Linked DNA regions of Homo sapiens: region 2 is linked to region 1. Evidence: fine-mapped expression QTL. A gene starts in region 1. The other region holds a variant in brackets. All regions are shown on one strand. Distances are between the middles of the regions. Region 1 holds the start of DCLK2 (doublecortin like kinase 2). Region 2 overlaps DCLK2 (doublecortin like kinase 2).

The links.
Region 2: its variant is fine-mapped to the expression of DCLK2 in prefrontal cortex (CommonMind, PIP 0.95).

What each region holds. Positions count from the first base shown.
Region 1 is chr4:150,070,001-150,085,996 of GRCh38, reverse strand. DCLK2 (doublecortin like kinase 2) reads right to left here and starts at 7,552. Exons shown (of 16, transcript NM_001040260.4): 1 at 6,549-7,552. The coding sequence starts at 6,969.
Region 2 is chr4:150,248,499-150,264,494 of GRCh38, reverse strand. DCLK2 (doublecortin like kinase 2) reads right to left here. Exons shown (of 16, transcript NM_001040260.4): 15 at 14,811-14,927; 16 at 7,057-8,475. The coding sequence ends at 8,248. It overlaps LRBA (LPS responsive beige-like anchor protein), which reads left to right. Exons shown (of 57, transcript NM_001364905.1): 57 at 1-60. Among named protein-coding and RNA genes, the nearest start is that of DCLK2, 180 kb to the right of the region's middle. The variant G/C (reference allele first, on the strand shown) is at 8,219.

The DNA.
Region 1 (15,996 bases):
CAGCCAACTTTCAAAGAAAGACATGGAGCCAGATAGAGCCAAAATCATTTCTCTTTCCCACCCCTAGAAGCATTTCCCAAGATCACTGAACTTTAGAGGCGAAAGAAGACTGTATTAGTCCGTTCAAGTCGCTATAACAAAATACAAAAAACAGAGTGACTTATAAACAGAAATCAATTTCTCACAGTTCTGGAGGTGAGGACATCAAAGATCAAGGTGCTAACAGATATGGTGTGTAGTGAGGGCTCTTGGTTCACTCATGGTGACTTCTCACTGCATCCTCACATGCTAGAAGGGGCAAAACAAGCTCTCTGGGGCCTCTTTGGGCACTAATCCAGCCTATGAAGTCTCTGCCTTTATGATTTATTCACCTCCTGCTGTGGGTTGAACACATCTCCCAAGCTTCAGGTGTTGGAAATTTAATTGCCATTGTAACAATATTAACAAGTGAGGCCTTGAAGAGGTGATTAGATCATGAGGGCACCACCCTCAAGAATGGATTAAAGCTGTTATTGTGGGAGTGGGTTAGTTATAAAAGGAGGGAATTTAGCCCCATTTCCTCTCTATATATCCTACGTTTGCTTTCACCTTCCACCCTTCCACCATGGGATGACCCTCAACAGATGCCAGTGCCGTGCCTTGGACTTTCTAGCTTCTAGAACTAGAAAATAAAATAAATTTTCTTTATAACTTACCTAGTCTGTGGTATTCTGTTATAGCAAGAGAAAATGAACCAAGACACCTCCCAAAGACCCCACAAACAGAATGGACTCCATTTCCTCTCAGGTGGTAGAATGTAGTAGTAGAATGTAGTAGTTAAGAACACAGAGTTTCAGAAGCCAGGGAGAAAGGGCTCAAGTGCCAGCTCTACCTCTTACATTGGTACAATGCAGCAATTTCTCTACCATCTCTGAGCCTCAGCTTCCCCATCTGTAAAATGGGGATGACAATGCAGCCATATTTCAGAAGGTATTACAAGGGTTAGATGAAATATGTAAAGTACCTCACACAATGACTGCTCATAAAACATCTAGTAAATGGTAGCAATGCAGAGAAGAAAAGCATCTCTAATCCTTACGGTAATGGTTTACTTTACGAGTAGAAGACATAAAAACACAGATGCAGTGGTAGCATGGGCAGGAAGGGATACAGAAAAAAGACCTAGCCAGGCGGTACACACCCCGCAGCAACTCCTCTCGGCCTCACGAGCAATGAAGAAAGCAGTTAGATGATCACTGCCCAAGAGAATCTGGTTTCCTTTATTTCATATTACAGGACCATAAAAATATCCTTTTCCATAGTTTAAAAACCCATTAGATATTAATCTTGTCTTATAACTTCCAGAGTATCACTGTGTCATACTCTAATCTCATAAATGCTCTCTCACATATCCCCTTTCCTTCCCCAACCTTTTAGGATTTATTCTTTAAATGAAAATTTTCCTCTTACCTCGGGAAAGAGCTTCTTATGCAGCTGTATTATAGCACATCTTATTTTCCTTGTTTTTAAGGAAATGAGATGGGACAACCAGATTTATAGAAGGGGATATTATGGAAGAGTCATTCCCTCCAAAATGGTTAGCACAGAATTTCACCCAAAATTATACGTTTATCTAACATGTAATCCAATTTTCCAAAAACATATATTTTCACAAATATCTAGGAATCCCATTAAAGCTTAACTCATACAAAACTTCCCTAGACAACTAAGGGACTTAGAGGTAAAATCATTGTCTGAGTTATTTAATCAATGAATTTACTGTATTTAAGATCCCTGACCTCAGGCTTCTCTCAGTTGAGTGCAAAAACAGATCCAATATATCATGAGACTACAAAGCTAAGTGTTATAATAGAAGTAAAGAAAAATGCTGTAAGCAGAGGAAAGTTATAAACTTGACCTCAGGCCTCGGCTCCAATGTCTGTTCCTCTAGGAAGCCCTCCACATCACCCCGGCCAATATGGCCATCCTGCCCCATGTCATCACCACTTCATTTACAGCACTTTAGCTGAAGCCATCTTGTTTGTATGTTTACTGTCTCTCTCCCAGGAGAATGTGCATTTTTTGAAGGAAGAGACCATAGGCATTTGACCATGTCTAGGACATAGTATGCCCTCAACTAACCATTTGAGACCAACTGCCCAGAGAAGTGGGAAGAGACTTCATAGGTGCTATTTGAAGTGGGCCTTGAAGAATCCAGGGGTTTCACAGGTAAAGAACGTTTTGCAGCCCTGAAATTCAATATTAACTTTCCAAGTCCAATCACCATGCATGACTTTAGTGTGCATCATTTTCGACTCCTATGTGCAAATACCTTGTAACTCATGAGTTTATTTCCTTCTTACCATAATAAGTTCCACAGTTTCTATTATTATAAAATTTATTTTTCAGGAAAAAACAACTAAGTATAATCTAGGTTCTTATGGAAATTCATTTTTACTTAAAAATTCTCAGAAACGTATTTTGGTTTATTTAACACTTTCAAAGAACTGACCTAACCAAACAGATGCGGTAGATAGGTTTGGTAGGAGGACCTCAAACTTCATGGGCTTGATTTCTTTACAATCTTATTTTTCTTACATGTCCCTGTTAACTTCATGAGGGAATGAAAGTATCATTATCAAAATAACCAAAACTCTCTCATATGCCAAAAAACAATCAGCTTATTGTTTATGAAGGGATAAAAGGTAGAAATAACAAAATGACATTTTATTTTGGAATGAGAGAGGCAGACACAGGTAGCTCTTAATGCCTTTGACTCTTGGCAAGCACTTCATCAGAGATATACACCCCATTCTGTGATTGTTATCTGGACATGTGCAGCCTCATCGATTTTCTGGAAGATGGGTTCTGGCTAGGGAATGGCAGCCCAAGCCATCATATGCTCCAACAATAACCCCTCAGATAATTAACGGGTACATACACATTTTTAAACCAGAAGAGACCTAACTTAGGTGGTCTGCCAACTTCTCATCCTAGAGAAAAGGATGCCAAGGCCAGGGAAGTGAGGTGAAATTTTTCTCAAATCTAGTCAGTAGAACTCAGGAATCCTGACTTGGTCAGGCACTTTTTCTACTGTCCTTGGTTATATCTCTTTAGGTCATCAAAACTTTATAAATATTTCAAAATGCTCAGAAGGAGAGAAGACCAAACGCTCAGAAGGAGAGAAGACACACGGAACAGAACTAAGACTAGGAATTCTGAATCAGTCCCTAATAAGAAAGCTAAAGAACAAGTCATCTGGACATTCTCTGTTGGTTATTACAGATACTGAGCTCAGCAGGCTCACAGCTTAAGACAGCTCAACTAATTTTTCCAATATTGATTAAGAGCCACAGTCCTGCCGGAAGAGGTCCCCCAACTAGTTTTAAAGAATAAACAGGATTACAGGACTGCACAGCATCAACTCAAACTTAATCCAGCAAGGATGGATAAATCAATAAATTGAAGGTGCTTGCTGGTTTAGTGTAGTGCTGGAGGAGTGCCAGCTCACACTAGAACAGCTTTTAGTCTCCAGAGACTCTCAAGGTCAAGGGCAGAAGAAAAAATAATTTGGGCCATGCAAATTTCTTTTGTCATCTGAGTTCAATGAGATTGGGGCTCTGAATGAATGTTCATATCCTACTGTTTTGAGTCATCACTTTCTATTCTTCACTCAAGACATTTCAGAAAAAAACATACCTCTTAAACTACAAGTTTCATGGGATCGAAGAAGTAGAGCCTAGTTGAACATAATGTTGTAAAATACTACCTGAGAGAGCTTTATTAAAAATAATCAACCAAAACGAAATAAAGCAGTCAATTTTGACAATGTGGTGAATATATTACAGACTTATTTTTACTAATGCAAATAACTTCACAGATAGCTGCTTAGTTCTCCTACATGAAAAATCTGAGCACACAATTTTAATTAAAAGTTGAAACTACTTACATTCTGGAATGATTGACAGTAAGCATTCGTGATTCTTTTTCTTTTTTTCTTTTCTTTTTTTTTTTTTTTTTGAGACAGAGTCTTGCTCCATCGCCCAGGCTGGAGTGCAGTGGTGTGATCTTGGCTCACTGCAACCTCCGCCTCCTGGGTTCAAGCAATTCTCCTGTCTCAGCCTCCTGAGTAGCTGGGACTGCAGGCGCCTGCCGCCACACCCGGCTAATTTTTTTTTTTTTTTTTTAAGTAGAGATGGGGTTTCACCTTGTTTGTCAGGCTGGTCTCGAACTCCTGACCTCAGGTGATCCACCCACCTCAGTCTCCCAAAGTGCTGAGATTACAGACGTGAACTATTGTACCTATATTTTCTTTAAAAAAAAAATTGCATTGCTATGGAGTATTCTACTAATTTGGGGGAAAACTGAAGAATTAAACAAAGACCCATTGTCAGAGAGAGTTCCATATGACAAAAAAAGTGTCCAAGTTTTCTTCTTTTGCAGTAATTTTATTGTATTAAAAACTTCTTCAAAGAAGTGGGCAAAGTCATAAAAAAAATTTTGGCTGTGCAACTATTTGTTATATTATTTATCATATTTTGGTATGATTTGGACTCCATAGATAATGTTTTTTCCAAATCCCCATCCACTAAAAATCAGTGAATGATTTGAAGGAAATTTGTTAAGTCAATTTGTAGTTGAAACTACAGTTGCAGAAGTAGACCCAGTGGACATGCATGCGGTGGGCGGTAAAAGACGCAATCTATACTAAGTACTCCTATTAATGGACATGCATAATGTCCATCTTATCATCTCTCCTATGAGATTCATGTTTACGTTATGTCAATTTTATGTAGTAAATCCACTGTTAAAATTTCTTTAGAGAAGGATATTAACATTGTTGACTCTTAAGAAACCATACCAGGAACAGTAGTATCCCAATGGCATGTTGAGTAACAAGTGCTTAAGCAAACAGGCATTGCCTTGATCCTGCAAATCTGATCTTGGGTCAGTCAAACAACTGGTTACTCTGTTTTAAAATAGCTAGGCAAATATTGCTTTTAAGTGTTTAACATGATTAAGAAAAGCAACAAGGCCCTTTGAACATTGTATCTTCCTTTTTTACTTATACTCCTCCAGCTATCCCCTTACCTCCTCAAGAAGCCCTTAAAACCAAAACACACAACTGACAGAATGGGTGAAGTCACAAGCACATACATATGTAGACTGAAGAGACAATTTAATTTTGGCTGGGTCGCGTTCTAGGCAGGGCAGCAAAAACTTCTGACTAAATAGACAAACTCAACGACCTTTAGTTTTCCTCCATGTGGCTCCATTAGCTCAGCAGAGGTGAATCGTAGACGAGAAAGTATATGCTGCAGGCACTGTGAGGCAAGGCATGCTGCCTAAGTTTCCTCATCTATAAAATGGGGATAATGCCTTCAGGACAGAAAAGCATGCTGAGATAATATAAGAAAAACATCTGGCTTGATGTTCAGCTTCCTCTCCCTGCCAAGCTATTGCTATGACTACATGGAATGTGCCATTTGCATTAAGAAAGATGCACAAGAGCGGACTGTATGTAAACACGCAGTCAGCACATACCTGGGTTCTGCCTGGTCTTTCTGGATGTTATTTAGAACTGGAAACAGGTTCTTAACCACTGATAATGCCTTTTCTACCTGAAAAGGATGAGGCATACGTATTGCAGGAATTCAAGGATGACCCAACATCCAGCCAAGCAGTCTCTTTGACCGAGGCATGGTTGACACAGCAGAATTACTAATTTTTAATAAGTCCCCACTGCTGAATCCAATGGCCTCTATCATTCTAATTAGGTACTCTTATTAGAGGATAAGGCTGGAGAGATTGACCTTGATTTACCTTTTTTCCAACCAAATGTGGAAAACCCTTTAGCACGGTGATTGTTAACCAGGGTCCCACATTAGAATCACCTGGGGGGGGGGCTTTTGAGACTCCAGACGCCTAACCCACACCCCAAACCCAACCAATTTAATCAGGATATCTGGGGGTTGGGGGATCAGGGTCCCATATTTTTCGAAGTCCCCAGTGTGATCCAAGATGAAGCCAAGGTTGAGACCTGCTGTCTAGGATCATCCCTCTTCACCTCAAGTAACTTCTGCTGCAAGGCAAACTAGGAAAGCCAACCTAGAGCATTTCACAACCACAGCTTCTGACAGCAGTCACAACAGGACCCCGAATACTGGAACATGACAGGAGCCTGCACCAGGGTCCACACCGAGGGTCCAACAGAGCTTATTAGTAGGGGATTACCCAGCTCCCCATGGGAGAACCATTTTCTCAAACAGTTTGCACTTCAATACAAATAAGTTCAACAATCTTAGGAGATGCCACCAGTGCCTAAATTGGCCTGACCATCAGGAAATTTTTTCCTTCTTTAAGAGACAAACCTCTTGGGAAGGAAAGTCAGTGTGTATGTGGGCACCCCACCGGCCCCCACCCCCAGCCAATCTCTAGAGAAGCAGACAGAAGCATCAATTCCCGTGCGGCTTGGAAAGCACCCCGCGGGCTCCCCGCTGCGCCGGCTCACGCCCACTGCACCTGCCGGCGCTCCGCCGCACCTGCCGTGCGGCGCCCTCCCCTCCTACCTTCCAGCAGCTCGTCCAGGCTGGTGACCTTCCGGCTGCCGTCGATGGTGTAGATAGTGCGGACACCCTGGGGCAGGTTCACGTTGTCCGACAGGGAGCGGGTGAGCTCTATGAGGAGCGCATCGAAGGACCGGAAGCGGTCGCTGGAGATGGCAAACACCAGGCCCTTGAAGTAGCGGTCCCCGTTCCGGTAGAAGCGCGCCTTCTTGGCCTTCTTCTCCGAGCTGAGGGCCTGCAGGGTCCGCGTGCGGTAGAAGCTGCAGTGGGCACTGTGCGCCGGACTGGGGATGAGCCCGTTCCCCTTGGGGCCCGAGCTGCTGCTGCCCCCGGAGGAGCTGGGGGCCCCTCTCCGCGACCCCGGCCGCGGCCTTTTGTCCCGTTCCTCAAAGTGCTCCAGCTCGATACTCCTGGTGCTGGCCATCGCGGCTGCTCCGAGGGCGTCCGCAAAAAGACGTTCCGGGCCGACTAAGGGTGCGAGCGCCGGTGCAGGGACGTCTGACTGCGAGGGCCCTTAACGCGCCGGGACACCTGGCTCTGGCATCCCGCCCTCTCCGCGCAGGTGGGGCCGAGGAGCCGCGGAGGAGCCGACCCGCCCGCGCCCTCAGCTAAAAGTGTCCGCAGCGCCGAGCTGCCCAGGTCATTGTCCAGTGCGACTTGCTCCGTGCCTCCCGCCTGCCGGGGAGCCCCACGCCCCCGCAAGCGCCTCCTCCACCCGGCCACGCCTCACAAGTCCCGCTCGGGAGCCGACCGGGAGAGGCAAAGTTGGGCCGCCCGAGGCTCGCGCTGGGCCCGCGGGCGCCCACAAAGCTCGGGCGTCTGCCGAGCGCTCCCGGGAGCGCCGAGGGGAGGAAGGAAGGAAGGGTGGGGCGGGGCGCGGAGCGTGGGAGAGGCCCCCGGGGGAGTCGCGCGGGCCCAGGCCCGGGGTGCAGCGCCGCCGCCTCGGCCGCGCCCGGATCCCGCCCGCCGGGCAGCGCGCGCCGTTCGGGGCTGAGAGGGCCGTGTCTGGCCCCTTCCTTCCCTGGAGCGCGGCCCTAGCGGGAAATAATGCAGCCCGCCTCCCACGCAGCGGTCAGGCCCGGCCCACTGGCAAGCATCCGCGCTCTGGCCTCCCTCCGCCGCCGACAGGCTGTCAGCGCTGGAGGAGGCTTCCCGGCCCCGGGGATGCCAAACCGCGGAGAAGGGGAGGAGGGGGCGGAGGAGGGGGCGGAGGAGGGGGCCGAGCGCCGGCGCGGGAGGAGCAGCTCCTGCGGGTCCCGGGCAGCCCCGCCCGCCTGACGGCTCCTGCCCGGCGCCGCGCGTTAATGGGCGCAGCCGCGACGCGCGCTCCTCCGCCTGGGAAACGTAACCGCGCAGGCCAAAAACTACAAAGGAAGGAGATTCAAGGGCAGGGAGCACATCCCCAGCCAGCATCCCAGTGAGGACCCCAGGCCAAACTACCGCAGAAATCCGAAGCCCAGCATTGACTTGGGGCACACCATTCATTTTTTTTAAAAAAGATTTGTTGCTTTATTAGAAAATCCTTTGAGAAAACAGCCTCCACTGTTTCCATTGCAGATTCGCTAATATGGTACGTTCAGTAACTTTGAATGAATGATGAGAAGTTATTGGGTGGTAGAGGGGGTTATGTAATCAACGAATATTTATCGAGAGCGTACCATGTGTCAGGCATTGTTTCTGTCACTGGGATGCCCTAACAAAGGAAAGAGAGACTCTGCACCCACTCCCCCCGCCCCGCATATTTAATGTTGTCAATTAAAGCTTCTTACCTAAGAGGCCTATCATTTGTGAGCACCCATCATAGTGGAAATCTTAATGCCGTAGTGTCTATTCAACAATAAAAACATCTTTTCCAAGACTTAAGAGAAATACTAGTTACTTGCATTTTGTTATTAGGAAAAATAAAGCTCAAATATGTTTGATCCCAATTTGGCACGTGAAACCTTAGAACATTCAACACCTGGTTTTCTGAGCAGCCCTAGACAGCAATCCAAACTGACCTTTCAGGAAGAAAGGCATAGTTGCTTTTTTTCGGGTTGAACTGAGTCCTGGAAGAGCATGAATAAAAGAAGGTAGAAGCACATGCAACGGTCTAGCATCTGTGAAGTTGGTGCGCCCCACCAAACACACGCACACACACGCATACACACCCTTCATGGCAGCTCCAGAAAGGTCTCCTGCTCGGTGCACAATACTACTCCTAAGGCAGTTCTGGGCATACACCTGGGCATACCTAACTTCCTGCGGGGTTGGGGCATGCTAGGAAGTCAGAGCTGATCTGAGGCTTCAATGTAGTTTTTCTAGAGGAAAATCCTGCAGCATCATTAGGTCCACCACCTTAAAAGGCCTCAACCTAGATCAGTTAAATCAGAATTTCTGGAGACGGGCTTCTCCAACAGTATTTTTTTAAAAGTACCCCTAAGGTATATCCAGAGTTTCCAACCACAGGCTGTAACACCAGGAATCAAATAAATCAGTGCTTCTTCTCAAACTTTAATATATTTACATGTCATAGGGGAATCTCGTTAAAATGCAGATTGCTATTCTGTAGCTCTGGGGTGGAGTTTGAGATTCTGCATTTCTGATGAGCCCCTGGGTAATGCCAATGCTGCTGGTCTTGGTACAAGACTTTGAGAAACAAGAAACTAAATTGCAAATTTATTGAGATAAGTTTCCATCTAAGTACCAGTAACTCCACAGAGCCCATCAACTTGCCTTAAGATGGCCATGTTCATTTGTATCACTGTTAGTATTTCTTAGGGGGAAAAAGACTTTGTAAACTATTGCTGTAGAAACAAATTATCCTAAACTTAATGATTTACAACAATAAACATGCATAATCTCAGCATTTTTGGCAGATCGGAAATCTGGGAGCAGTTTACCTCAAAGCCTCATGTGATTGCTGTCAAGATGTTGACAGGGGTCACAGCCATCTAAAGGCTTGACTGGGTCAAGAAGATCCATTTCCAAGACAGCCCATTCACATGAATGGTAAGGAGGCCTCAGTTCCTTGTCATGAGTACCTTTCCATAGAGTTGCTTAAGTGTCACCATGACTTGTCGGTTGGCTTCCTCTAGAGCAGGGGTGTCCAATCTTTTGGCTTCCCTGGGGCACATTGGAAGAAGAATTGTCTTGGGCCACACAGGAAATACACTAACATTAATGATGGCTGATGAGCTAAAAAAAAAAAAAAAATCACAAAATCTCATAATATTTTAAGAAAGTTTACGAATTTGCATTGGGCTGCATTCATAACTGTCCTGGGCTGTGTACAGTCCACAGGCCATGGGTTGGACAAGCTTGCTCTAGAGAAAGCATCCAAGAGAGCACAAGGTGGAAGCCACAATGTGTGTTATGATATAGCCTTGGAAGTCATACACTGTTATTCCCACAATATCCTGTAGGTTACACAAGGCAGCCCTGTTTGATGTGGGAGGAGACTACACTAGGGTGTGACTAGGAGTCAGCAATTATTGGGGTCATCTTGCAGACTGGTACCACGGGTTTCAATCTTTCAATCTTTAGAACACTAACATGCACTTCCTCACTCAAAGATCCTTGATAAGAGATTTGGCCCTTCTTAAATAGTGAGTACAATTATACAATATGCCAGTATTTTTAACTCAAGGTGGATTAAAGACTTAAATGTAAAACCCCAAACCATAAAAACCCTAGAAGAAAACCTAGGCAATATCATTCAGGACATAGGGATGAGTGAGGACTTCATGGTGAAAACACCAAAAGCAATTGCGACAAACGCCAAAATTGACAAATGGAAATAAAGAGCTTCTGCACAGCAAAAGAAACTATCACCAAAGTAAACAGTCAACCTACAGAATGGGAGAAAATTTTTGCAGTCTACCCATCAGACAAAGGTCTAATATCCAGAATTTACAAGGAACTTAAACAAATTTACAAGGAAAGAAACAACCCCATCAAAAAGTGGGCAAAGGATATAAACAGACATTTTTCAAAAGAAGACATTTACATAGCTAACAGACATATGAAAAAAAGCTCAACATCGCTGATCATCAGAGAAATGCAAATCAAAACCTCAATGAGATATCATTTCATGGCAGTCAAAATGGTAATTATTAAAAAGTCAAGAAACAGTAGATGCTGGCGAGGCTGTGGAGAAATAGGAACACTTTTACACTGTTGGTGGGAATGTAAATTAGTTCAACCATTGTGGAAGACAATATGGCAATTCCTTAAGGATCTAGAACCAGAAATACTATTTGACCCAGCAACCCCATTACTGGGTATATACCCAAAGGAATATGAATCATTCTGCTATAAAGACACACACACACACGTATGTTTACTGCAGCACTGTTTACAATAGCAAAGTCATGGAACCAACCCAAATGCCCATCAGTGATAGACTGCATAAAGAAAATGTGGCACATGCACGCCATGGAATACTATGCAGCCATAAAAAAGAATAAGATCATGTCCTTTGCAGGGATATGGATGAAACTGGAAGCCATCATCCTCAGCAAACTAACACAGGGACAGAAAACCAAATGCCCCATGTTCTCACTCATAAGTAGAAGTTGAACAATGAGAACACATGGACACAGGGAGGGGAACAACACACACCAAGGCCTGTTGGAGGGTGGGGTACAAGGGGAGGGAACTTAGAGGACAGGTCAATAAGTACAGCAAACCACCTTGGAACACGTATACATGTATACCTTTGCACATTCTGCACATGTATCCTGGAATTTAAAGTAAAATTTAAAAAAATAAAAATATGCCAGTATTTTAACATTATTCCCTAACATTATATCCTTAAGTTAAAGAAAGGTTACTGCTTTTCAACAGGGGTAGGGGGAAAAGAGAAAGTATTTCCAAAGCTGTTACTTAGTTAAAAAATGTTTTTTTGATCCTACTCTCCACACTTGTTTTCTTGAAGAATCTTATTTGTGATCCTCTTATAAGAATTGAGATGCAATCACTTTTCATAAGGTATCTATGAAAAAATATGATATAAAGACCCAGTTGGTCAACATTTGAAGATTTGTTGAGGTAGGAAAAAATTAGTTTCAGTATTCAAATTCTAATGCAAACAAAATTTGTAGGTTCTAGGTAGGCAACTATTACTTAACTTGGCTTACTTCATGATATTCAATTTATAGAACCGAAGCAGATTTTTTTCCTTTCATGCAGTTGCAGAATTTGCAGAGTAAGACATTTTAATGGGCATTTTCTTTGTTGAGATACTCATTTTTTTCTAACGAAGAAAGGCCATCTGATTATTAATCATTGGTCCTTCCAGAGATGGTCTAATTCTCTTGGTGGTTACAAGATCCACCAACTCTGTCTGCCACACCCTGATTTAAGGAGCTTCTTTAGGAAGAGCTGGCCACAGATGCCTCCTCACTATCTGGAAGCCCACTTTAACCTTAGATGTCTCTTGGTTGTAAAAAGTGTTGTTAGAAAAACCCTCTTTTTAACTCCCCTTAACCTAACACTTACTTGAATAAAAACTTTTGTGCCAAGTATTTTTAAAAAGGCTTCATTTTTCTGCTAAAGGCCATTGGAGAATTTCAGCCCAAAAACTCTTCTCCCCTTTTTGTGTAACTAGAAATGACCCCTTTTGCTTTTTATTTATAATACTTATAAATCATGGAATATCTAGTGGATGTGAAAATTTTGTTGGCAGTATGCAAGAAGGGTCTTCTACAAACCACTTGGGGCAGAGAAACTCAACTGGGCATAAAGGAAAAGAAATTGTTCTCTTTGTTCTCTACACTTCTCTTTGTATCACACACCTGTGATACAATTTTAGAGCTGCTTTTAGCCAGGTAGTAATTCCCTCTCCTGCTTACTCCCTCAACCCCACTCCACCTTGACTAAGAAATACAATGCAAATTTTTATCTAGCATAATTTGTTTAAATGAGACTTTATTAAATATTTCATTATGGGTCTTTACATAAGAAACTTGCCTTGAACATTTCCTGGTGTTTGCCTCATGCTGCTTTATTCCTCAAATGCTATGGTTAGTCTTCACTTTTGGCAAGAGACTTCTGTTTTTAAAGGCAGTTTTCCAGTGACTCCATTACTTATTACATAAAGGATGCCTCTGAACCTTTCAGATTGCACTGTGCTGAGACTTTTTGCTGTCTCATGTTTTCATTCCTGTTCACTATGTGCCAAGAATTTCTCCCAGAAGTAAAAAATGATGAAATAACTAAACTATTTTAAGTGAGAGCACCCGGTGACTATAGACTTAAATTTTTGAAACTAAGCATGATTCTCATTTCAATCTTAATAATTATAAGTTCTAGTGCTTTCTGTTAAGCTTTAATGGGGAAGGGTATAAGGTAAGGCAGCTCAAAAGCAGACTCTCCATCTCTACCCCATAATCTGTACCTAGACTGGAAAAAAGGCTCAAACTGTTTTCTCAATAGTTCTTCTGCCTTTGGAGCTTCGTTGTCCTTTTCACCCCTGATTCTTGTAGCACTTTACATAGATATTAATGATTTCTTCACAAATAAGTGAGGGAATAATTGAAACTACCTTTTCAGGTTCAAAAAATTTGAATGTACCTGTTTGGTTAAGTCTTTCAGAAAATCTAAATTTTGGCTTGTGGCTCATGCCTGTAGCCCCAACACTTTGGGAGGCTGAGGCGGGAGGATCACTTGGGCCCAGGAGTTCAAGACCAACCTGGGCAACATAGGAAGATTCCCATCTCTACAAAATATTAAAAAAAAAAAAATTAGCCCGGCGCAGTGGTGCGTGCCTATAGTCCCAGCTACTGCAGAGGGTGAGGTGGGAGAATTGCATAAGCTCAGGAGGTCAAGGCTGCAGCAAGCTGTGATTGTGCAGCTGCACTGCAGCCTGGGTGACAGAGGGATGAGACTCTGTTCTTGAAAAAAAAAATTGTAAGTTTAATTTTTAAATGAAAATATCAGAAGAATTGAAGAAAATAATCAAATATGCATGCTTTAAATATATATGGCACACAACTACTGTTTTTTTCCATGAGAAAATTCTGATTCTTTCTATGGTAAACTTCCATAAAGTGTCTAGGACAAAGACTCCATACATATAATGTAAATTTATATGTCATGTAAATTTTATATATTCAAAATTATATTTTTATTTTGTCATTTGCCAGTTCAGATGCAACAATTATTGATGAAAAATAACAACTTTAAAATCATATAGCAACTTTTTTCTTAGGAATTTGAATTTGTTCCTCTTAAATCTTCGTAAGAAGAAAATCTGGGCAACTAGTAGAATTCATACTTTCCAGATGAGGAAATCTAGGCATAAAAGTGAAAGATCATGAAAAGTACCACAGTACTCTCATTTTGTTTCTGTAGGATGAAATTTCCCAAACCCAATATAAAATTTAATCTTTAAATCTAGGTTTTTTGCTTCATTTAAAATTTTAAAAAATTATTTTTGTTAAAATTGATCATGATTTTAGTGGTTTTCTCCTCTCGGTAGTACCTTCAATGTTTATACAAATACTGAATGTGACAAACTATGTTCATGTCATTCTACATATCAGATTAAAACAATGATGGTCAAGAGTACTTAAAGGATAATAAATATTTTATAATGATTAATAAGTTGTTATGACCTAGTTAAGGAAACAGATTATAGACAAGGAAATAAGAAAGATTAAGCAGCAGAGATAGAAATTGCCTCCAGGGTATGCTAACTCCAGAAAATGTTCACTTCAAGCTTTCAAAATTCATTAATCACAAGAATGTCTGTCTCTTCAGGAATTATAGCTTAAAATTAATGATTCTTTAATTTACAGTAAGTTTATATTGCAAATTATCTGGTTATTTTAGGACAAACATTCTGTATACCCTACACACACATATTTGAAATAGTCAAATGTTAAAATATATATATCTTATTAATGGGAATAAGGATCTACTCAGACTTTAGTCAACACTCCTTAGCAAATCTGTACTCATTTGGCTATGTATTTAGTTTTTTTTTTTGTTTTTTAGTTTTTCATTGGTACTTCCCAGAGTCCTATCACCCTATCTGAAATAACTAATTGATCATGATTTACCGTTTGTATGAAAGATACAGCAGAAACACTGTGTGTGTGAATATATATATGTATCTGAGATTAAACACTTAAGGCAAAGAGATATATGCATGTGATTACCTGATTGTTTTTATCTTAATGTAACTGATATGTTCATCTTTAATAACTTGGTTATGATATAAAGCTACATTTCATTTTAGTATTAAAATTAATTATAATTATTATTTATTATTATTACTATAATAATAATATTTTTCTCCTTGGGCATTCTCCCTTTAGTGATAAGCCCATGAACCCCTAGGATCTTAGTTGGTTCAAAATCTTAGCCAATATCCTCATGAAGAAAAATCTCTAAAATGAGTCAGTCCTCCAGGGACCTCTGTTTCAGCTCCCATTGCTGTGTCAGTGCCCCACACTGTCTGACACCCTCTTCTGACCAATGCAAGTGCTGGAACTGTAGGCCCGGAAACAGTTTCAGAAGGTATGGAGAAGGAAGGGTTTTCCCCAACCCCCACCAAAACAAATAAATAAAATAAAGTCATCGTGCCAACTTGCTATACATCTACTAACTGGAAAGAAAAATCTGTTCCAAGGTGTTTATCTTCTTTACCACTTAGACATGGAATGATTGGTTTTGGCCTTTAGGTTATAGAATTGCAAATACATAGAAAATAGGCTATGTTGAAGTAATTACAAGAAATTCTCCTTTAAATTCTTACTTGTTAAAAAGGACTATCTTAATGTCTTCAGCGTTCTCAGATTTCTTTAATAGACCTGGCACAACCAGAATATGTAAACGATAGGTCCCATAACAGTATGGAGATACCATAAACCACTATTAATAGCCTAGTTGTTTTTCTTGGAGTTGTCCTGAAACTACCTACTTCATTTCATGTCATTTACCAGCTTGGTCACACAATTCAGTGGGAAATTCTGAAAGTCACTTGGAATGGTAAGTGAGGCAAGGCCAGCAGAGAAATGCAGTATGGAAGCCCTGATCTGTCTCTACACACAACTGCTTTATATTTTAATAAATCTTAATTCAAACAGTGTCTAAACTTTTGCTGTTAGACGTGTTGTTTGAATGGATGATAAAATTAGTCACCTTTTCCTTATTACTGGTATGGTCAAAGACTTTCCCTGGAGCAAAAGTTTTACCCTAATGTGGGTTTTGTTAGGGGTGATAAAAAGTTGTTTGCTGAAGTTAATTTAAATTCCTCCAAGAAGAAACTGTGGTCAATCCCCAGATCTCTTTCAGTGTGTGTTCCAATGCAAGATTTTCCAAGATGATATACAAAGAAATGTATCTTCATTCAATAACAGAAAAATTTATTGTAATAGAATTACCAGTAAGGTTGCTGCTGCTTTTTTTAAAACAATCTCACATTGACAGAAAAGATGCAAGTTCAGTACAGAGAATTTTTTTG
Region 2 (15,996 bases), 180 kb before region 1:
GCTCCTAAATTTTAAACATCATTAATAAAATAATGATTCACAAAGAAAGAAAATGTCAAACTCTGATTCAGTCCTAGTTTTTGATCAATAACCAATGTGAGAGATCCTCCTGACTGAAAACAGGAAAATGAGCTTTCTTTGGCCAGATCTCTCCTCTTTCTTACTGAGACTCACACAAATGACCTAGACCTGAATCTTACAAATGCCTAGCAAGGAACTTTATGTACCACTTCATCTGAGATCCATCATTAAGAAAATAAATAGACGACGGTGAAATGTGGGGGAGGGAAAGTACATTTTAGAATCAAAGAAATACCCAAGTTGCTGATAAATTAATTAACTGATGAACATCTTCACTGTTTGTTTGTTAATGTCCTCATTAACTTGTGAATATTACTCTTTGAAAACTTCTTAAGTGAACAATGGTAAAAGAAAATACCAATACCTAAGTCGTGCCACACAAATGATACTTCAACCACCCTATGCTTAACAAGCCTAAAGCAAAGCTCCTCTTGAAACCTAAAAGGAAAAAAAAATCAGTATCTCCACTACCTTTATTGTTTTAAAAACTTACGACTAACGAAAATTAATTGAAACATAAGTTGGCCGGGTGCATTGGCTCACGCCTGTAATCCCAGCACTTTAGGAGGCCGAGGCAGGCGGATCACTTGAGGTCAGGAGTTCGAGACAAGCCTGGCTAACATGGGGAAACCCTGTCCCTACTAAAAATACAAAAAGTAGCCAGGCTTGGTGGTAGGCGCCTGTTAATCCCAGCTACTCAGGAGGCAGAGGCAGGAGAATTGCTTGAGCCTGGGAGGCGGAGGTTGCAGTGAACTCAGATTGTGCCACTGCACTCCAGCCTAGGCGACAGAGTGAGACTGCATCTCAAAAAATAATAATAATAATAATTAAAATTTAAAAAATAAATATTAAAAGAAACAATACTTCATGAAACAAATAAGGCTGGCATCAACACATGGGCTTCTTAATGACAGAATCTGTTCAGTAATAACATTTACAGTTTATTCAATATTTACTTATTCAATTTTAACTAACTCCTTAAAAAGGCTATTACTTTACATAAATGTAAGCCAGCTAAGAAAAAGCCAGCTAAGTGAAAGTAGAGGTGTTTTGGGGCTGGAAATAAGGGAACCACAACAGAGGGAGCAGTGCGTCTGCACAGTGAGTAGATGCGGCTGGATGGGCTGTGCTTGGTCCATGTACAGTAACTGAGGGCTGGTTTAAGATGCATTGCCTCCAGAAATTAAGATTTTCCTCCCTGACATACTGTTTCTTACTGAAATATAACCAATCAAGTCCCTGAGATGCTGTCATTTAAGAAATACCATTAGATCTGTGGGAGAAAGCAGGAGAGCTAAGAGACAACATGAACATCCGAAAAACATCGATAGAAACGTGTAGACAACACACTCTCAGATGACAGTGTCTTACTCCCAAAGTACACCAAAAATCAGTGTTTTCATAAATTACTTCAATAAAAGAGCTATTTTATCCATTGAGAAACATCACACCTCACTTCTGCTTAGCATACACAACAGGAAGATTCCAAGTGTCTTGCACAGGAATTACGAGTAGCCGTGAGCAGGGCATGAGGTCAGGAACTGACAACCCGGGGTCGCCCTTTCCACTCGCTCTAAGAGCAGCCGAGCCAGAGGGTCAGGGGCCAACCACACACTTGGTGTCACATGTCCTCCTACACCTGTCAGAGGGACAGTGAGATGGCAGTGGTTGTGTGAGTCAAGCTTGCAGGAGATGGTCAGGGAACCTGGGATGTAGCCACTGCACCTACTTTGTACCCTTCTTAGCAAATACAACAGCTTGCAGCAGCTTAGATTCACCATGAAAGGTGGTTGAGGTAGAGATTTTCAGTAGGTTTCTTTGGTATCTTGTTACTGGCTGTGATCTCAAGAGCTTCCAGCCATGCAAATAAAAGGCCTGGTTTAGTCCTTTCTAATGTGACAGTCCTGCCCCATTCTCCATCCCTGCTAAAAAAGGCAGCTGACCCATGATATAAACAGATTCCTCCTGGATCCAGATGCAGAAGTGTCTTTCATTTAAAAGCTGGAATAAGCCACCACTGAGCTAGGTGGAGAAACTTCACCAGTTCCTGGTGTGTGTTCACTATGGATTAGCCCCATAGCCCCACATGAAATCACATTAGGCCAAAGTATGTTCACAAACAGAAGCAGGATGTAACTTTAGTCTCAAAATCTGCATAACCTATACATGAGCAAATGTGCTAGTGCCTCCACTTGGCTATTTTTGCCCTACCACATGGAAGGAAATCGTTTCCTACTTCAAGCAGAAGAACACCCAGCCCAGCTTACCCCCGTTTTGTGTAGCATAAAGTTGAACCACTGTTAATTCTATAGGCTTCACAAGTTATCCTTGCAGGGGAAGGAGGCTGGGAAGTTTCAAAATTTCCTACTTGTAAGAAGGAAGGGCAAGACCATAAAGTAGCAAATACATAAATAGCCAAACAAACCATTTTAAAGTTCTACTTCCTCTCAGGTGAGTGGGAGAAAAATCTTTTGGATTTTTCTTTTAGATAGACTTGAAAAGTTGAGTCCATGATGAACTTCTTGCATGCTCTATAGTCATAAGATCGCTAAAGACCCAAGACTACTGTTAACACCACTGACACATCACTCCCAGCCCTGGCTGCTATGAACCAGAACCGCAGACTGCTCAGAGCAAGGCACATCACATTTTTCTCTCATGAAATGAAGGGTGGTTTGGCCTTTAGGCAAGCAATTTGTTTTGAGAGAGCTGGGCTCCTCCAGCAAGGTTAGAAGACAAACTGTGAATGCTCCTATGAGATCTTGGTGATCTATGCCAGAAACATGAAGTGAACTATTTTTCTGTCTCAAATTCAGGAATATTTTTCCTTGCCAAAACCAAGATTCCAGGGAGTTGGGCAGGCTTGTCCCTTCCTCATACCTGGCAGGAAGCTGGCTGCTTTGCAGCTTTGGCCTTGGATAATTTGAAAGACATCCCCGGAACTAACTTCAGCCTCAACACAGACAGGCATCCAACCACTCCTCGCAATGCAACAGACTCAGCCCGCCTGATGGTGCTGGAGGCCTGTGGTGCCCAGCTCTGCCCAAATTGAAGGGGCATGGTAGGGGCCAATGACTGTCTCTGTATCAAATATATGCTTTTCTTCCCCTCAGCCATTCAATGCTGGCAAGGCCTTCCCACAGCTGTCTTTGAGTTCAAGGCTTTGTTTTTTATCATAAGATTGCCCCTTAGAACCCCCTGGCCAAGACTCACCAAAGTTGCACATGTCAGCCTCCCTCTGGAAAAACCACTCTCTGACTTTGATCTAAATAAGTGCCCCTGCTCTGATAACTTCTCAGCCACTGACAAAGTGGTAGAAAATGAAGGGTGGTTTGGCCTTTAGGCAAGCAACTTTTTTTTTTTTTTTTTTTGAGACAGAGTTTTGCTCTTGTTGCCCAGGCTGGAGTGCAATGGTGCAATCTTGGCTCACCGCAACCTCCGTCTCCCGGTTTCAAGCGATTCTCCTGCCTCAGCCTCCTGAGTAGCTAGGATTACAGGCATGCGCCACCACACCCAGCTAATTTTATATTTTTAGTAGAGACGGGGTTTCTCCATGTTGGTCAGGCTGGTCTTGAACTGCCTTCCTCGGGTGATCCGCCTTGTCTCCGCCTTGCTGGGATTACAGGCGTGAGCCACGTGCCTGGCCAGGCAAGCCATCTCTTTTGAGAGAGTGGGCTCCTCCAGCAAGGTTAAAAGCCAAACTGTGAATGTTCCTATGAATTCGCACCCCACCTGTGTCTTACACACGCAGCACTCCTAACACATCTCTGACTGCCAAAAGAGGAAACCTTGTCATGGGGCACCTGCCCTGCCTGGGGAAGCTCTTGACCATTCCATTTCCTTATTTATTAGACAAGGATATTAATATCTATCTCTTAGGGCTGTGGCATATCTCAAATGAGATAGGATGAAATACTCCATAAGCTGCAAACTTGTGTGATTGTCATGATCTTCTTCTTTAGAAAGCAGCTGATTCTGTGACTGCACTGCTCTGTTACTAGAATCTTACTCTCACTCTGTCCTTAAATCTGACCTTTTGTGCCCCCTACCTGCTGACCTCAGGCTGACCATCCAGAGCAACTAAAAAAAGGCTGTGCCCCTTCTATGGAGCAGTCCTTTACACAGCCAAAGACATTGAGCAAATGTGCCTCGACTTTCCTCTTACCTCACAGTTTTCTCCACCAGTCCTTGGCTGCCAGGATTCACACCCCCTCACCACTCCAGCTGTCCTCTGTCGGGTGATCATTGCTCTTGCTCTGCACCACATGTAACAAGGTCCCCAGAACAGAACTCCATCCCCAGCTAGCACTGCCTGGGATCTGCGCGTGCTTCTCATAACACAGTTAAGATTATGCTAATGTTCAAGCAGCTGTGTTGGCTCCTAACGACTGGGCGGTCATTGAAATCCTCCAGGCCCAGATCTTCAGCCGTGCTGCAGGCCAGGGCCTTGCCTTGGGTAGTTACAGAATTGAATCACAGCACTTCACACTTCACTTCTACACCGTGGGTTTGGATCAGTATCCTCACCTGCTGAGATCCTTTTAAATGAGTCCATTCCATTAAAAAAAAAAAAACAGGAAAGCATTCTAAGTTGTTATTCACATCATATGCGGGAAAAAAAAAAAAAGGTTAAGAACAAAGACTGAAGCTGCAGCATGGCAGCCACTAACCACGTGGCTGTTCAACACTGGAAATGTGCCCTGTCCAAACTGAGACATGCTATAAATGTAAAGCACACCAGATTTCAAAGGTTTAGAACAAAGAAAGTAAAACATCCTAGTGATTTATGTTGATTACATGCCAAAATAATACTTTGGATGTATTTAGACATATTAGGTTAAATAAAATATACTATAAAAATTAATTTCACCTGTTTCTCTAAAAAATTTTTTTAACATGATACTAGGAAATGCTGTCTCCTGTGGCTTGCATATTTCTGTGGGACAGCAAACTGTTCTAGAGATCTTTCTCCAAGACAACATCAATCAGCACTCCTGCTTTCAACATGGTGAATCTGTCCTGAGCTGTCTTCACCATCTCCTAATTCACATTTCACCATTTTAGCCATGAAGATATTCTGGGGGAAGTTTTGCCAAATGCCTTCAATTTATATATTCAATACATTTCTATCATAGCAACCTTTCTGAAAAGAGAGGGTGAGAGGAAGAGAGAGAAAATGAGAGGCTGAGACTCGGCCCGGCTCAAGTAAGGGAATCAACATGAAACAGTTCATGCCATTCTCTCTGTGCAGGATTTGAGGAACCCAGCAGTTTTAAGTACCTGTATTTAATTTAGATCCTGAGACAGAATTACAGCTTAATAAATGTTTGCTAAACAAGTGGGCAGATGAACAATCTGCCTGTATCAGAACCTTTATTTAGCTCCTCCCCTCCAGGCCTTGATTTAGCCATGGATAGACAGGGTCACCCCCGCCCCGCCCCCAAAAAGAACATGCACTTTAGAGTCAGCAAAAGCTAACACTGCATCATGGCTCCACCTCCTGCCAATTCTATTACCCTGGAGGTGTGACTTGACCTCTTGGTTTGCTCCCCTAGCGCCACATACTTCTGTAGGTTTTCCTGGGGTCATAACCATTTTAGCAGGATGGCTAGGCAGTGCCGCCCCTGCCAGCTCATGCTACTTCCGGTCTCCATCCTTACAGAGGGCGGAGGCATGTACCGACAAGAAGAGGCTCCTGCATCCTGACAGTGACTGGCACTGGCCAGCCACTTATTTTGCCTTTAGCAGATGTCTTTCTTTGAACCTCACAGTTCAAGGGAGGGAAATGGGTTTGGGGCTCAGATCAGTGCCAGAGGCCTTGTTCTATCGCTGTTTGCATTTTTCTCCTTCTTCCTTTTATTAGCTCTTCCCTTCCATTAACAAAAATATTTCTATTGAAAGCTATGAAAAAGCTTGTCCTGTAACCAAAGAGGAGGCACAAGCAGAATGTTCTAGACCTATACATCACTGCTTTTTTGAAACTGTCGTCCTCCTGTAGCCTGACCCTGCTACAGCTGTGGGCCTAGGAAGCCCGCCGCCCGCTCCCCCAGCCCGCAACCCACCGCACCTTGTGGCCAACCTCTGGACCTGATCAGGGGTCAGCACCAGCCCAGAACTCATTGTATCGCCTGGCCCTTGAGATTGACTCATTCCTTCAGCAATCTGAACTGGAAGATCCAGAGTCAAGTTAGATGGTTTCAAGCCCTGGGATTATAAAGCCTTGAAAAGTTGCGGACAGAGGCAGTACCAGGGTAACCTGAACCACAGGTAAGTGGGTACTATGAGGGGACAGAAACAAGAGTCTTGCAGAGAAAGCTGTAGCTGACAAGGCACTGGAAAAAGCAGAGACAGGAGACCACACAACCTCAGAGAGAGACAGGGGAACAACTGCCCCAACTCTCTGCCCTTCCTGCTGCTGCTTCATAAGGTTCCTCTGTCGCACACCAAGCACACCATTTGTTCTTGAGCTTTTGTGATGTGTCTTTTTTTTTGAGGCAGGTTCTCACTCTGTCACCCAGGCTAGAGTGCAGTGGCACGATCTCAGCTCACTGCAGCCTCTACCTCCCTGGTTCAAGTGATTGTCCCTCCTCAGCCTCCTAAGTAGCTGGGATTATGGGCATGCGCCACCACGCCCGGCTAGTTTTTCTATTTTTAGTAGAGATGGGGTTTTGTCATGTTGGCCAGGCTGGTCTTGGAACTCCTGACCTCAGGTGATCCACCCACCTTGGCCTCCCAAACTGCTGGGATTACAGGCCTGAGCCACCACGCCCATTCTGCACCTGTAACCAGACAAACTTCAACCAAGATTCATTTCCATGTGTGTTCTCCCCGAGCTTCCTCTTTTCCCCGGGTGGCCCTGAGACTTTGCAAAACAGCCACTGGCACCCGCTGGAACCCGGGCCGAGGAGGAGAACTTTGCTCCCATACATCCTTAGCCAAACAACAGCACAGAAACCTTTGCCCATCCCTGATTACTTTTTTTCAAGAGGGAAAAGTTTATTGCAGGTTGGGGACACTTGTAAAAGGCAAAATCTAACAATGAGAACGAACTATAGGGCTCGCCAGTTTAGAAGATGAGCAGGTAAAACAAATACACGGATTATGTACAATTATTAAAAAGAGCAGGGTGGTGGACAAAAAGGAAAAACTGCCAGCAGCCTTCCAGAAGGTTCACAGAGTATATCCAGGGAGCACCTTCCCGCCCAGTCCTGGCTGCCTCGGGCATGCCTCCTCCTGTGGTTACCTGCCCTGCTCCAGATGAAATGCAGATGAGGAAGCAGCTACCGGGGCTCAGGAGCAGAGCTCATTCTGCTCGGCAAGTCGCTGGCTTGCAGGGAAGCAGCCGCTGGGTGCCGCATGCGCCAAGCCTCTCATTAAAAAGCCCAGAGGGCAAGTTCACGGGCATTTCCTAACACACGTGTGGGAAGAGCTGGGGGAAACCCACACCGCCCAGGGAAGAAGTGGCTTCTTCCATCGTCTGTGTATGAATGAATACTGAGCATTGTCTCTGGGGAGCCTGGTGCCCCAAGCCGAATGGCTGAGCCCGCCGCCCTGGGCCTCTGAGCGCTTCTCAAAGCCTGCAATCCGTGTCCAATGACCAAATTGTCCTCTCAGGCGCTCACTTCTTCTATTAGAAAGCCAGTCCTCTTAGCCCCCATATCACCTCTCACAGGACACCCACAAAAGGACAAATGCAATTCTAAGTCTTTCGTAAAAAAAAAAGAGAGAGAGAGAGAGAAAAGAAAAGAAAGGGAGTGTTCTGAGTCTACTTAAATAAGGAAAAGGCCTTGGTTCATCCAAAGTGTTTCCAAAGTGTTTCTATAAAAATGCATCGAATGCTGGAATAAAGTTGCACATTCTCCTGGTGAAGCTGTAAAATGTCCAACAAACTGAAAATGACGGGATGATCTGGAACGAGTCTCTCCGAACAGCTGTTGGCAGAACGGATGCAGCCTTTGATGCCTCCAGGAACCAGAAGGCAGAGCCCAGAGCACCAGGCCAGGCTCCGGCACGCCAGGCTCCGGTTCCCAGGCGGCCTGCGGAGGACCCGCGAACTCAGGCGCAGGCGGTGAAGAGAGGGAGGCCTGCAGCAGGGAGGCCGGCGAGGCCGAGCAGAGGGCTGGCTTCCTGGGCTGCA[G/C]CAGGCGGCTTCGCCCGTCTGCAGGAGGCTCAGTCTCGGTGGCGGCGCCAGGTTCCTGCCCGCTCACCACCCGGGGCAGCGGGAGGAGGGTGGGGGGTGGGAGATTCCGGAGGGGTGGGGGCCGGGACTGCTTCCCCAGGCACAGGGATCTCCTCCACTGAGGGAGGAACTGGAGAGATGGGCTCCATCCCAGGCCTGCCGCTGTCTTGACAGTGCTTGCTGCAGAAAATCTGCCCCTCCTTATCTAGAGCCGTGTTCTGAGGAGGAAACAGCAGAGACAACACATTACCCGGGCCCAGGCTCGGGTCCCAGCTGCCACGAGCAGAGAGCACAACAGAGCATGCACGGGCCTCAGAAACAGAAGAGGAGAAATAACGCCAAGCTTCTAACAGAAGCCTCACAGGAGAGTAATGGTTTCGGGAACCCACCGGGGGAAGGGGCTGTCCTTGGCCTCTGCTCCTACCCTGACCCAGGCTGGCAGCCCAGGACACACTGGATGTCTGTCGTCTTCTCTCGCTTTGGGCTGTGCCTGGGTTCTCACCCCTTCAGCCCAAGCCCAGACCTTAAGCTCAAAAGAATTCTGAGACAATAAGCAAACCTTACAAGGGTGCTCAGTCTTGGAGAGTTTACTCTTCCAAATAAAGCTCTCTGTCACAGATTGAAAAGTTACCCGCATGTCCTGTGAATAATTAATCCTCCTAACAACCTGAGATGCTGTGAAGCCTATAAAAGGCCCAGGAATTGGATGGAGCCACATTACTCTTTTTTCAGATCCTCCATGATATCCTCACCTGTCTTCTCTTCACATGAAGCAAAGCTTCCTTATCCTGAAACATCCTGAAAGTTTTTAAATCTGCTCAGCTCTTCAAGGAACAGAGAAACAGCCACAAAGATGTGAGGCAGTCACCTTGCGTTCTAAGCCTGGCTGGGGAAGGGACCCCGGTCCTGCTTTCTCCTTCTCTATTTCCTGCTTGTCCAGGGAAGCCCATCAAGCTGCCATCTCAATGGGCTTCCCAAAAGTGAAGGAGATGGCAGTTCCCAGGCACCTTTAGCTGAAAGGGACAATTGCCAGGAGGCCTTTTGTAATCTAACTACCCTGGGGAGGGAGAGGGGAAAATGCACTAAAGATTCTTTCAGTACTTTAACAACAACAAAAAAAGTCTGGAGAAAATAAGAATCAACAACAGGGCTTTCTAAGATGAACTTGGGTGGCGGCCTTCAGGGCACCTGGGGCCACCTATGGAATGGCTGCTTCTCCACAGGCCCTCACAAGTTCAAGCTGAACAGTCATCCATTTCTGGCCGGGTGCAGTGGCTCACACCTGTAATCCCAGCACTTCCGGAGGCCAAGGAGGGAGGATCACTTGAGGTCAGGAGTTTGAGACCAGCCTGGGCAACACAGAGACTCCATCTCCACAAAGAATTTAAAAATTAGCCGGGCAAGGTGGCGTGCACCTGTAGTCCTAGCTACTTGGAGGCTGAGGCAGGAGGATGGCTTGAGCTCAGGAGTTTGAGGATACAGTGAGCTAGGATCACACCACCGCACTCCAGTCTGGGCAACAGAGCAAGATCCTGTCTCAATAAACAAAACTCCCCAAATCCCTACAATTTCCAAGGACAATTTCAACTACCTGGAGAAAGGGTAACTGTGGAAAACTCCACTAAAAGATGCTCCCACCTACATGGGAAGCAGAGAGCCAGCATACAGGTTTTTCCTACCACAAAATGTCTCCTGGGTACAAGAAAACAATCCCCCCGTTATTTCTCCTTTTCTCTTCCTGTCAGAAGCACAGGGGCGTGTGTGGCAGAAGGCAGGCTGGCAGTGCGGTTAGTACATACCATGGCCTTGGACCTAGCCAGAGGGAAGCAATGCAGGCGGCGGGAGAGGCAGAAGGCAGGAGAGAAGCAGGGACAGAAACTAGACTTACTTTCAACAGAAGCAACACGAGTGAAACAGTTTTGTCTATCTTAAATTAAGGCAATAAACCCAAATCCTTCCCCAACTTCCCCCTGAAACAAGGCATAATCCCCCAGCGAAGAAGGCAATGCCCTTGAATCCGTCCCTTCTCAAGTCTGCACCGCAGGCGCCGAGTGACGGCGGCTTCTCGGCATTCCCTTCCCACCACAAGATGGTCTCTCCTGGTCTCTGCAACTGGGGCGAGCCCCCCGGGGTACATGGGAGGCCGTCCTGCATGCACCCTGCTCTGTCCTTTCTTACGCATGCTAAGGACAAGTCCAAGAAAATGGGAACTGTAATCCCACACCTCAGCCCTGCCTGAAACCAAGGCCTCACCCATTAAATTATCTTCTCTTATCCCAAAGGCTGGCTGAGATTACACTTACTGATACAAACTCATCTTTGGAAATGCAGCTGGAGAAAGAACAAAAGCCTTCACGAAGGCACCATCTTAAGCTGCTCTTTCCGAAAAGCCACTTTTCACCTAAGTGGGAAACAGCATCGGTAGGAGAACTATGGGACTCCTCCCGTGCTCTCACCAGCTGTTGGTCTGGAAAGGCAGGCAGTGTGGTAAGCTGAGAAGTTTGAAAATAAAGTTTTCCAGGGGCCTGCTTGGCTGGCTGGAAAGGATGTGAGTAGGTACAAAAGACCCACACCAGTAAGCAGCTGAGAGCCGGACGGCGGCATCAGAAACTGAGACAAGCATGCAGGCGTGAGAGGGGCTGAGGATGGGGCGCGCTGGTCGGACGCAGCGTGGTGAATACCAGGATTCTGCTTCAGGCTCTCCCACTGTCTCAGCGGGGTAAAGAAGGAAACTCTGAGGTGCCTCTCAAACTGTCAAATCAAACTGTCAAACAAAATGCAGATAACACCATCAACTTTACTTTTTTTTCACCTTTATGGACCAATTTCTAGCCCATCATTTTCTCACTGAAGTCTCAGGCCCCAGCTCTGGGGATGAGAACACTAGGGTGACAGCAGATGGGAAGGTCCTGTCTGTAAGTTATCTGATGATTCAACCTCCAGACGGTTGACACTATTTCCACTATCATTTGTATCTGCAGAAAACCAGGTTGGCCCCACAGTCTCAGTTATGAGGACCTATGAGTACCAGGGAGAGTCATTTTGAGGTTATTTTTAATGTAAAAACACTTAAAACTGTTCCGAAGACAGGACACACAGTGACGTGAGGAGGATGAGGAGGATGAGGAGGATGAGGAGGACGAGGAGGATGAGGAGGACGAGGAGGACAATACAGCAGCATCGCAAGTTCCCCCACACAACCATGCCCCAGACCAGGTCCTGCGCCAGGGGAGGATCAGCAGCAGGCCTTCCCCTCCCACTTTTTGGGACAGCCCAAAAGTCACAGGCTGGTGTTTTGGCCATCGAGAATGGGTGCCACCAGAGGCAAGACTGATTGAATTTCCCTGTAGGTACTGAATGGGATCATGACATCAGCAGTTCCTCTGAGCTAACAGCCTGCAGAGTTGTGTAGGTAACATGGGGTTAGAGGGGACACCCTGCCAACATGCGCAAAATGACAACTGAACACACATAAACATACAACATTTACAATCACCATCAGAGCTGCAAACAATAACGGGTTGTTTGTTCACACAAACACCCTGTCAGAGCCCAGGGGTTTGTCTTTTGAGTCCTGAACTCCTCATCAGCAAATGGAAAATGGTATTTGTAAACCACACGACATAGGTTCTGTCTGAGGGGGTCTAAGCGTCATTATCTAGGACAGAGCCTGTAGAACAGCTAATCATTCCAGAATGTCAGCTGAGAGCCAGCCATAAAGAGGCCGGGCACAGGCCTATGGCCACTGATTCCTATCTGGGCCCCTGAGTCAAAAAGTGACCCCAGCAATGACTCCCTTCACAGTCTCCGAGCAAACTCTCCTAAGCCCTGGGCACAGGGCGGTTAAAGGTTCTTCCTCTCAGAAGACTTAACATGGTTATTAAATTTTGATCCTAACCAATCTCTCTTCTTAAGGTTTTTTCATGACACGTTGAGTATGCCAATTTTTAATGTTTTATTTTTCTAAATTTTCCAAGAAGCTGCCTTACAACGCAGTGCACAGCAAGACTGTGTACCACTGAGCCCATCCATCAATGCTAGCTCTCGCAAGGGAATCGCTGGAAACATTCTCATGCTGTTGGCTCAATCAAGATGGTTCTTTTCAAAGTGTCTAAGCTGTAATTCTTTGACAACTCTGACTTTCTCAGGCTTTCAGCAAAACACTGCTAAAATTCAAGGGAAACCACAACTCAAAAGGCCTTCTCACTGCTTTGGCACAGAGCGCCCCCAAAGTCCTGCAAGCCATCAAAAGACTCAGCTTGCAAACCCAGGCTCTGTCTGGAGAGGGAGAGAGGGAGAGAGGGAGAGCACACTTTCTGGCAGGGGAGCAGCTGGGGAGTTGCAAGGACACACAGAGGGTGGCCACATAAACGCAGCCGGGGGACAGAAGAGAATGACGGCCCAGTGGGTGCTGAGAACCTGGTGGACGCTCAATCCATATAACAGAGTGCTGCATGCTCGTGGGGTGTGTGGGGTGTGTGGGGAATGTGGGGTGTGTTCGGGTGTGGGGTGTGTGGGGGTGTTGGGGGTGTGTGGGGGTACCTGGTGTATGCTCAATGCATATAACAGAGTGCTGCACGCTCGTGGGGGCGGGGGGTGTGGGGTGTGTGGAGGTATGTGGGGTGTGTTCGGGTGTGGGGTGTGTAGGCTGTGTGGGCTATGTGGGGGTGTGGGGTGTGTGGGTGTGTATGTGGGGGGTGGGGGTGTGGGGGGTGTGGGGGGTGTGGGTGTGGGGTATGTGGGGGTTATGTGGGGTGTGTTGGGGTGTGGGGTGTGTAGAGTGGGGGGTGTAGGGGATGTGTGGTGCGGGGGATGTGGGTTGTGTGGGGGTGTGGGGGGTGTGAGGTGTGTGGGGATGTGTGGTGTGGAGGGTGTGCGGGATGTGTGGTGTGGGGGATGGGAGTGTGTGGGGGTATGTGGGGGTGTGTGGTGTGGGGGGTGTGAGGGAATGTGTGGTGTGGGGGGTGTGGGGGATGTGTGGGGTGTGGGGGATGTGTGGGGGTGTGGGGGATGTGTGGGGTGTGGGGGATGTGGGTGGTGTGGGGGATTTGGGGGGTGTGGGGGATGTGGGGGGTGTGGGGGATGTGTGGGGGGTGTGGGGGATATGTGTGGTGTGGGGGATGTGTGGTGTGGGGGGTGTGTGGGGGTGTTGGGGGGTGTGAGGGATGTGTGGTGTGGGGGATGTGTGGTGTGGGGGGTGTGAGGGATGTGTGGTGTGGGGGATGTGTGGTGTGGGGGGTGTGAGGGATGTGTGGTGTGGGGGATGTGTGGTGTGGGGGGTGTGAGGGATGTGTGGTGTGGGGGTGTGGAGGATTTGTGGTGTGTGGGGATGTGGGGGGTGTGGGGGGTGTGGGGAGTGTGGGGGATGTTGGGGGTGTGGGGATGTGGGTTATGTGTGTGGCTTCCTTATAGCTTCTATCTAGACCCTGCGTCTTCCTAGGTAAGGCTCTCAGACAACCATGTACCATGAGAATATGCCACTGTTTCCCTTCTAGTTGGGTAGGAAACAAGGAGGACCTTCCCAGAGGATGAGAGGCCTGTCCCAAGTACGAGTGACGGAGCTGTGGAGGTGGCCCATCCTTAGCTGTCAGGACTCAGTGGGGTCACGGGGGGCCCAGATGTGAAACTCAGACGCCCATCACCTTGGCAGGTCTGATTCGAAAGCTGCTGCAGCCAACTCCAGCTCTGGGAAAGGCCACTCCACCCCTGTTCCCTGCTCCTGGGAGTGTGTGGGGAGAACCAAGGTCCCTGCCTGGGTGGCTGGCTGGCTTCTACCTGCTCACGGTGAGCTGGCCTTCCCGCCCAGGGTTGCATTGGCTCAGGCCTGGACAGCTGCTGCGGGTGTGCTGCCCTCACCTCTGGTTCAATGTTTTTTCCTTTTGATTCATTTACTCTCATGTCACTTTTCATTTTAATTTGTTGTGTTTATGTATTTAGGAGAGTTGCCTTAAGAAACATTTTGGAAGAAGAAAAGGCTGAAAAAAATAAGGCCATCGTTGTCACTGACATCTCATAAAATGTTACCAACCCTGAAAAATGAATATATATTTTTTTCCTTGATTATGTACCTTTAAAAGCCCCAAACTGTGTTTTATAAAACACTGATTTTTTAAAACTGAAATATGTTTAGCTTTGGCTGTTTCTTATCCCAAGTCTCAAAGAATAATTCACATCTCTAATAATCTATTTCTGAGGCCTTGGGGTAGGCAGGGAGTTAATTCCTAACACAACACACCCCTCCAGGGCTTGGGAGTCTCTCTAGATGAGAAGGCAGAGACAAGAGTGGAAGCAGCTGCCCAGAGGGCCCAGCCAGGAGCTCCTTGACGCCTGGACCCCTCACACCAGGCCTGCTGGTCCCTACACAAGCCCCTCCACACAGTGCCCAAAGCCTGGGAGTTGCCGAATGAGTGCCCTCCACATGCCAAGCCAATCTTCATATGAAATAGGACTACGGAAGGCACCAACTTCCATGTGAGGGCAGCTCCCGGCTACCTAATTCAAAAACTTCAAGGCCGGCTCCGCAGTCAGGCCAGACCTGCCGCCTTCCACTCACCATGATGACGGAGACCCCGGTGGTAGTGCTGTTCTGTTTGGGGAGCGCATTATTAAAGTGCTGTTTTAGTTTACCTGTCACCTCAGCTTGCATGTTATTCTCCTGGGAGGCATCATCCTACAGGAAAGAAAACAATCAAATACAATGCTTTTTCCATCCTCCCGTTTGAGTTGTCTTTTCCTTAAGAGTCCCCCTCCCCGCCTCAACCACCCTCCTGACCTCTTCCTAAATGGGCCCCTCTTAGCCACAGAATTAGGGAAACAATGATCTTTCAAAAATAACTATTGTTATTCAGTAGGCCCATGCCCTCAGAAAGACCCCACACCATTCCCTCTGCCCCTCAGGACTAGAGTAGGCCCAGGAGAGGGCACAGGTCTCCCGGGACACAAAGCAGGACACACTTTAGGCTACTGAGACCCTCACCCAAGGCACACGATTTAGTATGATCCCTCCCATGGAAGCATCAAAGATCATTGTTTTTCACTTTAATCAAGAATTCATTTAGTTGTTAGTCTTTATTGCTTATAATAAAAAAAAATGTGGTATCTTAGCTACTTGGTCCAAGAACCACGTCATTTAGCCCAAGAGAGCAGCAAGCAGGGTCCAGAGAAACTGCACCTGGATGGTGGGTGGGTGGGGCATTGGAGGTACACAGGGAGCTTCCCAACCGGAGTCAACAAAGCCCTGGGCTAATTAAACTAACTTCACTCTCCTGGAGCCTCCCAGAAATGACGGAAATGGGAGAAATGTAATTCCCACAGTCCCCATTTATTGGATCATGTTTCCCTCCCAGAGACCACCTGAGCCTCTGGGAGGGAACTCTAGTCAATATCATGTGTCTCCACTCAGCTCTGAAGCGATCCTGTCTCAGCCTCCCCATCAACAGCAAGAGGTCTCCTGAGAGCACGTTCCCTGAAGGCACAAAGGTCAGGGTCTGAAACAGGCTCATCTCCAGGGCAAACCCTGGAAACTCTCAAACCCCAAACCGCAGAAGACGAGAGCTAAAAGCCTCCTGAAGGAGCACTGTGGCCAATTCCATTTTGCAGATAAGGAAACTGGGGCCAAGAAAGGGACAGTGACTTGCCCAGGTGACTCGCGGGGCAGGGTCTAAGACTGGGACCCTAGTGCCAACTGCTTTCTTGGGGAGCCATCTTTATGCTACTTGCTCAATGGGACAGACAGACAT